Linked DNA regions of Homo sapiens. The protein of the gene in region 1 purifies or fractionates together with the protein of each later gene. This does not show direct contact. Each region holds a gene or a part of one and is shown on either strand. Other genes may lie near its edges. The genes, in order: CD46 and POGLUT1.

What was found.
Region 2: the proteins of CD46 (region 1) and POGLUT1 fractionate together in Homo sapiens (co-fractionation; one large-scale study listed by BioGRID). This does not show direct contact.

What each region holds. Positions count from the first base shown.
Region 1 is NC_000001.11:207,761,733-207,765,556, forward strand, and holds part of CD46 (membrane cofactor protein isoform 3 precursor), read left to right. Parts: intron 1-3,824. UniProt on the Homo sapiens protein: Acts as a cofactor for complement factor I, a serine protease which protects autologous cells against complement-mediated injury by cleaving C3b and C4b deposited on host tissue.
Region 2 is NC_000003.12:119,482,276-119,486,099, forward strand, and holds part of POGLUT1 (protein O-glucosyltransferase 1 precursor), read left to right. Parts: intron 1-3,052; coding exon 3,053-3,112; intron 3,113-3,824. UniProt on the Homo sapiens protein: Dual specificity glycosyltransferase that catalyzes the transfer of glucose and xylose from UDP-glucose and UDP-xylose, respectively, to a serine residue found in the consensus sequence of C-X-S-X-P-C.

The DNA.
Region 1 (3,824 bases):
CACACTGGCTTAAAGAAAGTTTCATCTTGTATTACAAGAAATCTAAGAGTTCTGGCTATGGTAGTGGTAAACTGTGACAGACTAATCGTCTCACAAATAAAAATGATAAACTCTGGATAAAAAAAATTTTTTTTTTAAAGACCAAATGTTTAAGGCACTCTGGAGTGACCAAAAGTATGAAGACCATGTAGGGGACTTGCCCATTTAAAGAAAGAAATCACTGAATAACAGTGATTTAAAAGTATATACTCCCCAAGTACACATGAAACATTCTCCAAAGTAGACCATATTCTAGACAATAAGACAACTTTTAACAAACTTCAGAAAATTGAAATCATTCAACATGCATTATCACAATAGAATGAAAGCAGAAATCAATAACAAAGCCAATCCCCAAAGAATTGGAAAGTGTACAGGACACTTCTAAATAACCCATGCATAAAAGAAGTAGTCAGCAGGGAGATTAGAAAGTGTTTTGAATTGAATAAAAACACAACATCTCAAAATATCCAAATATGTAGGATGCAGCTAAAGCATTGCTTACAGGGGAATGTATAGCATAATATACTTGTGTTAGAAAAAAAGAAAAGTCTCAAATCAATGATCTAATTTTCCACCTTAAGAAACTAAAAAAGAGCAAGTTAAATCCCAAACTAGCAGATGTAAGGAAATGATAAAAATAGAGCCAAAATCAATGAAATTGAGAAAAGAAAAAAAAATAGAGGAAATCAGTGAAACCAACAGTTGCTACTTGGAGATCAATAAAGTGTGTAAACCTGTAGCCAGACTGACAAAAAAAGACGCAAATTAACCAATACTGAGAATGAAAGAAGTGGTGGCCAGGCGCGGCACCCCAGCCAGCTTGAAGACCCTGCCCTCCTGCAGCCGGCAGGGGCAGTCACTCCCGGACTTGTCCTTTTAGAAGTTCCAGCTTTACCACTTGCTGGTGGAGCCCAACCACTGCCGCAGGGTCCTCATCGCCAACACGCCTGGCAGATCCAAGAGGAGATGGCCCAGGATGAGACGTGGCACACACAGGCACCCGAGAGTGTGGGGTTGGCGTTGTTCCACTGCCTGGTTTCTGCAGAGATCCTGTGCCTGTGGCCTGTGCCCGCCATGTGGAAGCCAGAGGGGGTGTGCCATGCCCCCCGCTTTGGACACTGCTGCGTGAAGGGGCCAGTTTTCAGACCTTTGCTCTGTCACCTCAGCACTGGCGCCAGGAGCCCTGAAGAGCAGCATCTGGGAGACGGACAGCCCTGGGGAAAATAGAGGAGGCGTTCAGAAGTAGCTAGATGAGATATTTGAAATACTGAAGACCAAAAACCCCAGTTTGCATGGAAGAACTGGCCTCAGATGTGGTCAGTTCCTATGATGACCTGGACACACGGTGCTGACCCACACGATGGGAGGTGGCCCTGCAAAGCATTCAGAGGCTTGGGCCTGCTGCCGTCCGGCCTCCCACCTCCAGCTGCAATTGCATTCTGACCTGGGCAAGTAGGAACACGTAGTGGAGATCCTGATGGAGACCTGAGCCAGGCGTCCCGGAGTGCTGGCCAGGCGTGGAGTACGGGATCCAGCTAAGGGAGACTGGCCAGCCTATAGCCCCCCAGCCTTGCTGGCTCCTCTGCTAATTCCAGCAGGGTCTGCAGCCCCAGACCCATCCCCTTCCTTCCCGTCTGCAGAGGGCAGGCCAGAGGCTGGTCTCAGTGGGAGCTAGGGCTCTCCTCAAGGGCTTTTTGACCTTGGGCCAGTCTTGACATCCCCACAGCCCTGCGCCCCTCATCACTTTTCGTGTCTCTCGGAGACGGCGAGCTGCAACTGCAGCAATCTTGTTTAAATTTAGGTAGGTGAATTTCTTAGAATTAAGTTTCATATGTTTTGAGCAATAAGTTTTCTTAAGATATATATATTTTAATCTTTTTAGTTTTATCTCTGAATATTTTTTATTTTTTTTCAATGTATTTTTTTTCTGGAAACATTCTGTGCTGCTACATTAGAGCCTACACAGTTTAGTTGGTACATTTCATTCTTTTAAGGTTCAAATAAGGGATTTTATTTTCCAGTGAGTTTCCTTGCATTGTTAACAAGTCAACAGCGTTAACGTATGATTTTTTGGTTTTTTTTTTTTGTATACTTTAAATTTGTGTGCAACCCTTCTCATTTATGCCCTGTGTTACAGTGAGAGCTTGGTCAAAGTGGGGAAAACACACACAGCTGCTACACTTTTTTTTTTTTTTTTTGTCATTGGAACATTTGTGCCATGTCTTCCTAGACTTAAGTGTAAATTATGGAGGGTTTTATTTGACAATTTATATGTAAATGTCATTGAAGGCTAAGGTTAAATCTTTGGAAATCACAGGCACCAGTTGATCTTTAGAGACCTCAGATCCCCTCAGGTGGCGCCTTGTGATAGGCGGTGTTCTGGGAGGCTTCCTGTCAGGTTCCACAGCACAGGCACCTGCTCTGGGCACGGACTGAGCTCCTGGGGTGTGCACGGAGCTGCGGTGCGCCAGTCACATGCGCTTGGAAACAGCGTGTGCTGCTGGATTGGAAATGCCTACGTTGCTCTGTTAAATTGGTGCTGGAGCCAAAACCTAAGGTTAAATTTAAGTCTAGAATGAAAGAAATCTGAATCCATGTAATTAATGGCCGCTCGATCTTGAGAGTCCTTGACGGCCCTGCCTCAGGAAGTGAGGTGGGGGTGCCTACACCTTTCACTTTCCTTCCTCACGTCCACCCCGTATGTGTTTCTCATCCTTTTTCTGACTTCCCCCCATCCCTTAGCCAAAAAGCTTTATATTCTTTTGTGCATATGGTCATTCTTTAATATCAGTGATGTAAACTTTACTTGATTACTTTACAAAATTATTCAACAGACAAACAAAAGAATGAAAAAGAGAATATCACTAAATATCCTACAGACATTTAAAGGATGACAAGGGAATATTATAAACAACTTTATGCCTACAAATTTGACAACTGAAATGGACAGATTCCTTGAAAGATACAAAATGTCAAAACTCACTTGAAGATATGGATAACCTGAATACTCCTATATCTACCAAAGAAATAAAATTTGTAGTTAATAACCTACTGAAGGTCCAGATGGCTTCACTGGGGAGTTCTACCAACCATCTAAGGAATAAATCACAGCAATTCTACACAAGCGTTTCAAGAAAGTGCAAGAGGAGGGAACACTTCTCATCCCATTTTATGATGATAGCATTGTCCTTATACGAAAACCAGAAAACAAAAACATTATAAGAAAATTACAAATAATATCCTTGATGAACACAGGACCAAAAATCTTCAACAAAATATTAGCAAACCAAATCCTGTGATACATAAAAAGAAAAGTAAATCATGACCAAGTAGGATTTACCCTATGAATGCAAGATTAGTTCAAATGCAAAAATTAATCAGTGTAATTTGCCACATCAGTAGACTATTAAGGAGAAAAAAAATCATGTGGTTATCTTATTAGATGCAAAAAACAAAGAAAATGTTTGACAGAATTCATCATCTTATTTTTTCATGATAAAACTTCTCAGCAAACTAGGAACAGAAGGGTACTATCTATCTTACCCTGATAACAGACATCTACAAAAATCTCACAGCTAACATTACACTTCATGGTTCAAAAAAATTATACTTAGTGGTAAAAAGTAACATTGTACTTAGTGGTTAAAAAAACCTTACTTACATTTCTGTCTAATTAATAAAGACCTAATTCTGGAAGGAAAACAGTGAGGATGTCCACTCTTACCACTCCATTCAGCATTATATTGGAGATCCCACCCAGTACAGTAAGGCAAGAGAAAGCT
Region 2 (3,824 bases), on another chromosome or scaffold:
ATTTTACAAATATGTATAACTCAGGCAACTTTCCCCCTAACTTATTGGTGTATCTAAGTAATCTTTCCATGTCTTTGTTTCATGTCAGTACATATGAAAGAGTCACTTTATTTATTTGTTTGTTTGTTTATTTTTAAAAGGCAGGATCTCACTATGTTGCCCAGGCTGGACTCAAACTCCTGGGGTCAAGGTGTTATCCAGTTACTCCACCGTGTAGTTATTAATACCATTTTCCCCCAGGTAAACTAGTAAGCAATTTTTAGGCAGATAGAATGTTTTAAAGTCTAATCTTATATGAATACTTTTTTCTTTTGATACCTTCCCATTTTATTCAATTGAATTTATTCATGGTTATAGAAATACAATTTTGTTTTTTAGAACCCTCTGTTTAGAATCTCTAATGATGTTCATTTGTTACCTTGAAAATTTAATAATCTGCTTGTTTATCCATCTGCACTGATGTCTGCCTGCCACTGTTCATTCTATTTTTCTGATATTTTGGGAGTTTGTGCCCACTGATTTATATTTCACTCTGTAGAAGAATTCATTGTTCTTTACAGATCGAAGATTTCATTTGTTACTGTCAGAGAGGGTTTAAAAAAGAGGGCTGGGGTAGCACCAGGCTGTGGTGGCCACCGTTAGCACTTGCCTGGAGAAACAAGTCCTAACCTAGGTCTTTTGAGGGAGGATGGGTAGGTTAGGAGAATGAAAGAGAGAGAACAGTGATACACAGTTTGGGTTTGTGTATATGAAACACAGCTTCCCCAGGAGCCAAGGAAATAAAGAGAAGTAACTTTGAGTATAAATTGATACATGTTTTGTTAGATAGTTTGACAATATGTATCAAAATTGGAAATGTATACTGTGTATCCTTTGACCTAGCTGTTTCATGTCTAGAATGTATCCTAAGGAATTAATCAGATGAATGTGCAAAGATTTGTGTACAAGGATGTTTACTACCATGTTGTTTCTTAGAGCAGAAAGTTGGAAACTACCTAAAAGTCCATCAATAAAGGATGAAGTGAATCATAACATGACTATAAAATGGAATTTTTGCAGTGAGTCTTTGCCAGAGATTATAAAATGGAATATCGTGCATGAATGGAAAGGCAGTGTAGGTTTTAAAAACTCTGGGTTCAAATCCTGGCTCTTATTAGCTGCATGACTCTGTGCAAGTTGCTTAACCTCTAAAGGACCTCATTTGTAAAATAGGGGTGATAAAACCTACCTCTTAAGATTGTGAGAATGATTTTTTATTTACAAAGCACTTAAAACAATGTCTGTAACATAGTGAAGTGCTATATAGATGTTGGCTGTTATTATTATTTATATTTCCTATTAAGATTGTTACCTAACAGTATGTATGGTGTGACCTCTGTTACATAGAGCAAAGTTTCTCAGTACTAGTGTTGCTGACATTTGGGGCTGGATAATTCTTTGTCCTGGGAGCTGTCCTAACCACTGTAGGATTGTTCAGCAGCATTTCTGATCTTTACCCACTAAATGCCAGTAGCAGTCCCCTAGTAGTAACAATCAAAAATGTCTACAGACATGGCCAAATGTCCCCTGGGTGGGAGGGACGGGCAAAATTACCCCCAGTTGAAAGCTACTAATATGAATAAATGATTGCAAGGAAATTCTCGGCTAAAATGTTACATTGTTACCTCTGGACAGGGAGATTCCAGACGACTTCTTACTTTTATCTTTATGCTTTTTCATGAGAACTTTGCATGAGGAGCATGAAACATTTTCCACTAAAAACAAAACAACAAAAATCCAGTGCTATAGTGTCTCTGCTTGGGCAGGAAGAAGTATGGGGAAAACAAGATAGTTCTGGCCTTAGACTGGAGAATCAGGTAAAGGTGATCCATCCAGAAAAGGCCAGAGGATGAGCCACGTTGGCTGAGGGTGGAGGTCTGAGGGCCTGGAAAATACTGAGCAGCGTTCTCAGCTGAGTGAAAATGAGCAGCATGACATTATATGTATCTGAAAAGGACCTGTGCCTAGAAAGTTTATATCCTAAGTTTCTCCGTTACTGTAATCCAGCCCATCAATCCCTCATTAACTTCAGTTCAGCCTTCCCTTCCTTTTTCAGAGAAGATGCTGTGCAGACTTCTGTGCAGGGAGGGTTCCTACGAAGCAAGTTAAGAATGATGCATCTGTGAGCTAGCAGTTTCAGTAAGGAAGGCTGGTCATGGTAATGTGTACTGAGATCTGACTTTCAAGGACTTCATCTTTATAGAGCACTTAGTCTGGCTTTAAGAATACAAAGGTGCTTTTCAAATATCAAACTAAATCTGATGACACTTCCCACCTATGGAAAACATAAAATCAGAGAGTGATTTCCCTTTCATTCCATTTCTGATGCTTTTTTATTTTTTTGCAGTTCTGTACACATAATTAATTTCATCAGTAGCACCCTACTTAAAGTACAGAGGAAATCCACATTTGCCAAATTATAAACAGACCTAATCATGACCTTCAGGGTTTGGGGGCTTTTCTTTCAATGTTGTTAACTTGTTAATGGGGAGTAGATTTGTAGATACAACTGGGTAGCACCTCCAGAGCAATGAAATGGTAGCAAAAGGAAACAAAGTGTCCTTTAGGGCTTTTTCTTTTGAGTGACTTTGATTAGACTTACTTAGAAATATGAAGCTCTGGCCAGGCACAGTGGCTCACGCCTGTAATCCCAGCACTTTGGGAGGCCGAGGCAGGCGGATCACGAAGTCAGGAGATAGAGACCATCCTGGCTAACACGGTGAAACCCTGTCTCTACTAAAAAATACACAAAATTAGCCGGGCGTGGTGGCGGGCGCCTGTGGTCCCAGCTACTCAGGAGGCTGAGGCAGGAGAATGGCATGAACCCAGGAAGGGGAGCTTGCAGTCAGCCAAGATCGCGCCACTGCACTCCAGCCTGGACGACAGTGCGAGACTCCGTCTCAAAAAAAAAAAAGAAATATGAAGCTCTGAACTAATCTTCAGAAATGGTTAAAGCACATTCTTATATAGTTGAAAAAGATATATTGAAACTAATTAAATTCTATATTCTTAGGTCAGCAGCACAGTGGCCATGGAAAAAGAAAAACTCTACAGCATATTTCCGAGGATCAAGGTGAGTTATTTTCTGACATTTTACAAAGATATTCTTCCAAGTAATGTAAAATGTAAGTAACTTTGAGGGTATGACAAGCTCTGTAGTTCAAAGGGAAAGCTAAGATAACAAAGAAAGAAATGTGGAATCACAATTTTAGATTCGAGAATAATTCACATTATTTGCCGAAATCGCCATTGATTGAGTTGATATTCAAAGAAGTAAAGTTCATCCATTTCAGTCATTTAACAGATATTTTACATAGTGTCACAAATGTGTCGGTCATTGATTATGTGATGCCAAACACAACAGATGGGTGTCTTCTTACAGTCCCTAGGAGTAGCTTATGATCATGCCACGGTACTCTGCTGGTTAATGCAGAGCAGGACTCATCACCATATCTCTTGACTGCCTTTTTTATCACACCCTGTGGCTGCCAAATAGTGGTTAAGAGCACAGACTGAGACTGCTGAAAATGAAGAAGGGAGCAGGGAGGAAAGAGAAGAGAAAAATGGCAAAGGTAGTAGGAGGACCCTGTGTTGTTCAGCTCCATAGTCCCAAGGCCAAGAACAGTTCCTAGCATGTCAATATATGATAAATATCTGTGGAGCAGATGAATAGAAAAGACCATGAAGGGAGCAGGGTTTTGTAGTTTTAGCAAGTGAGTCCTTGCCAGAGATTATACTCCCTCTTCACCCTCCTCTTCACTTCGGAGCTAGACTTTAGGAGGTAA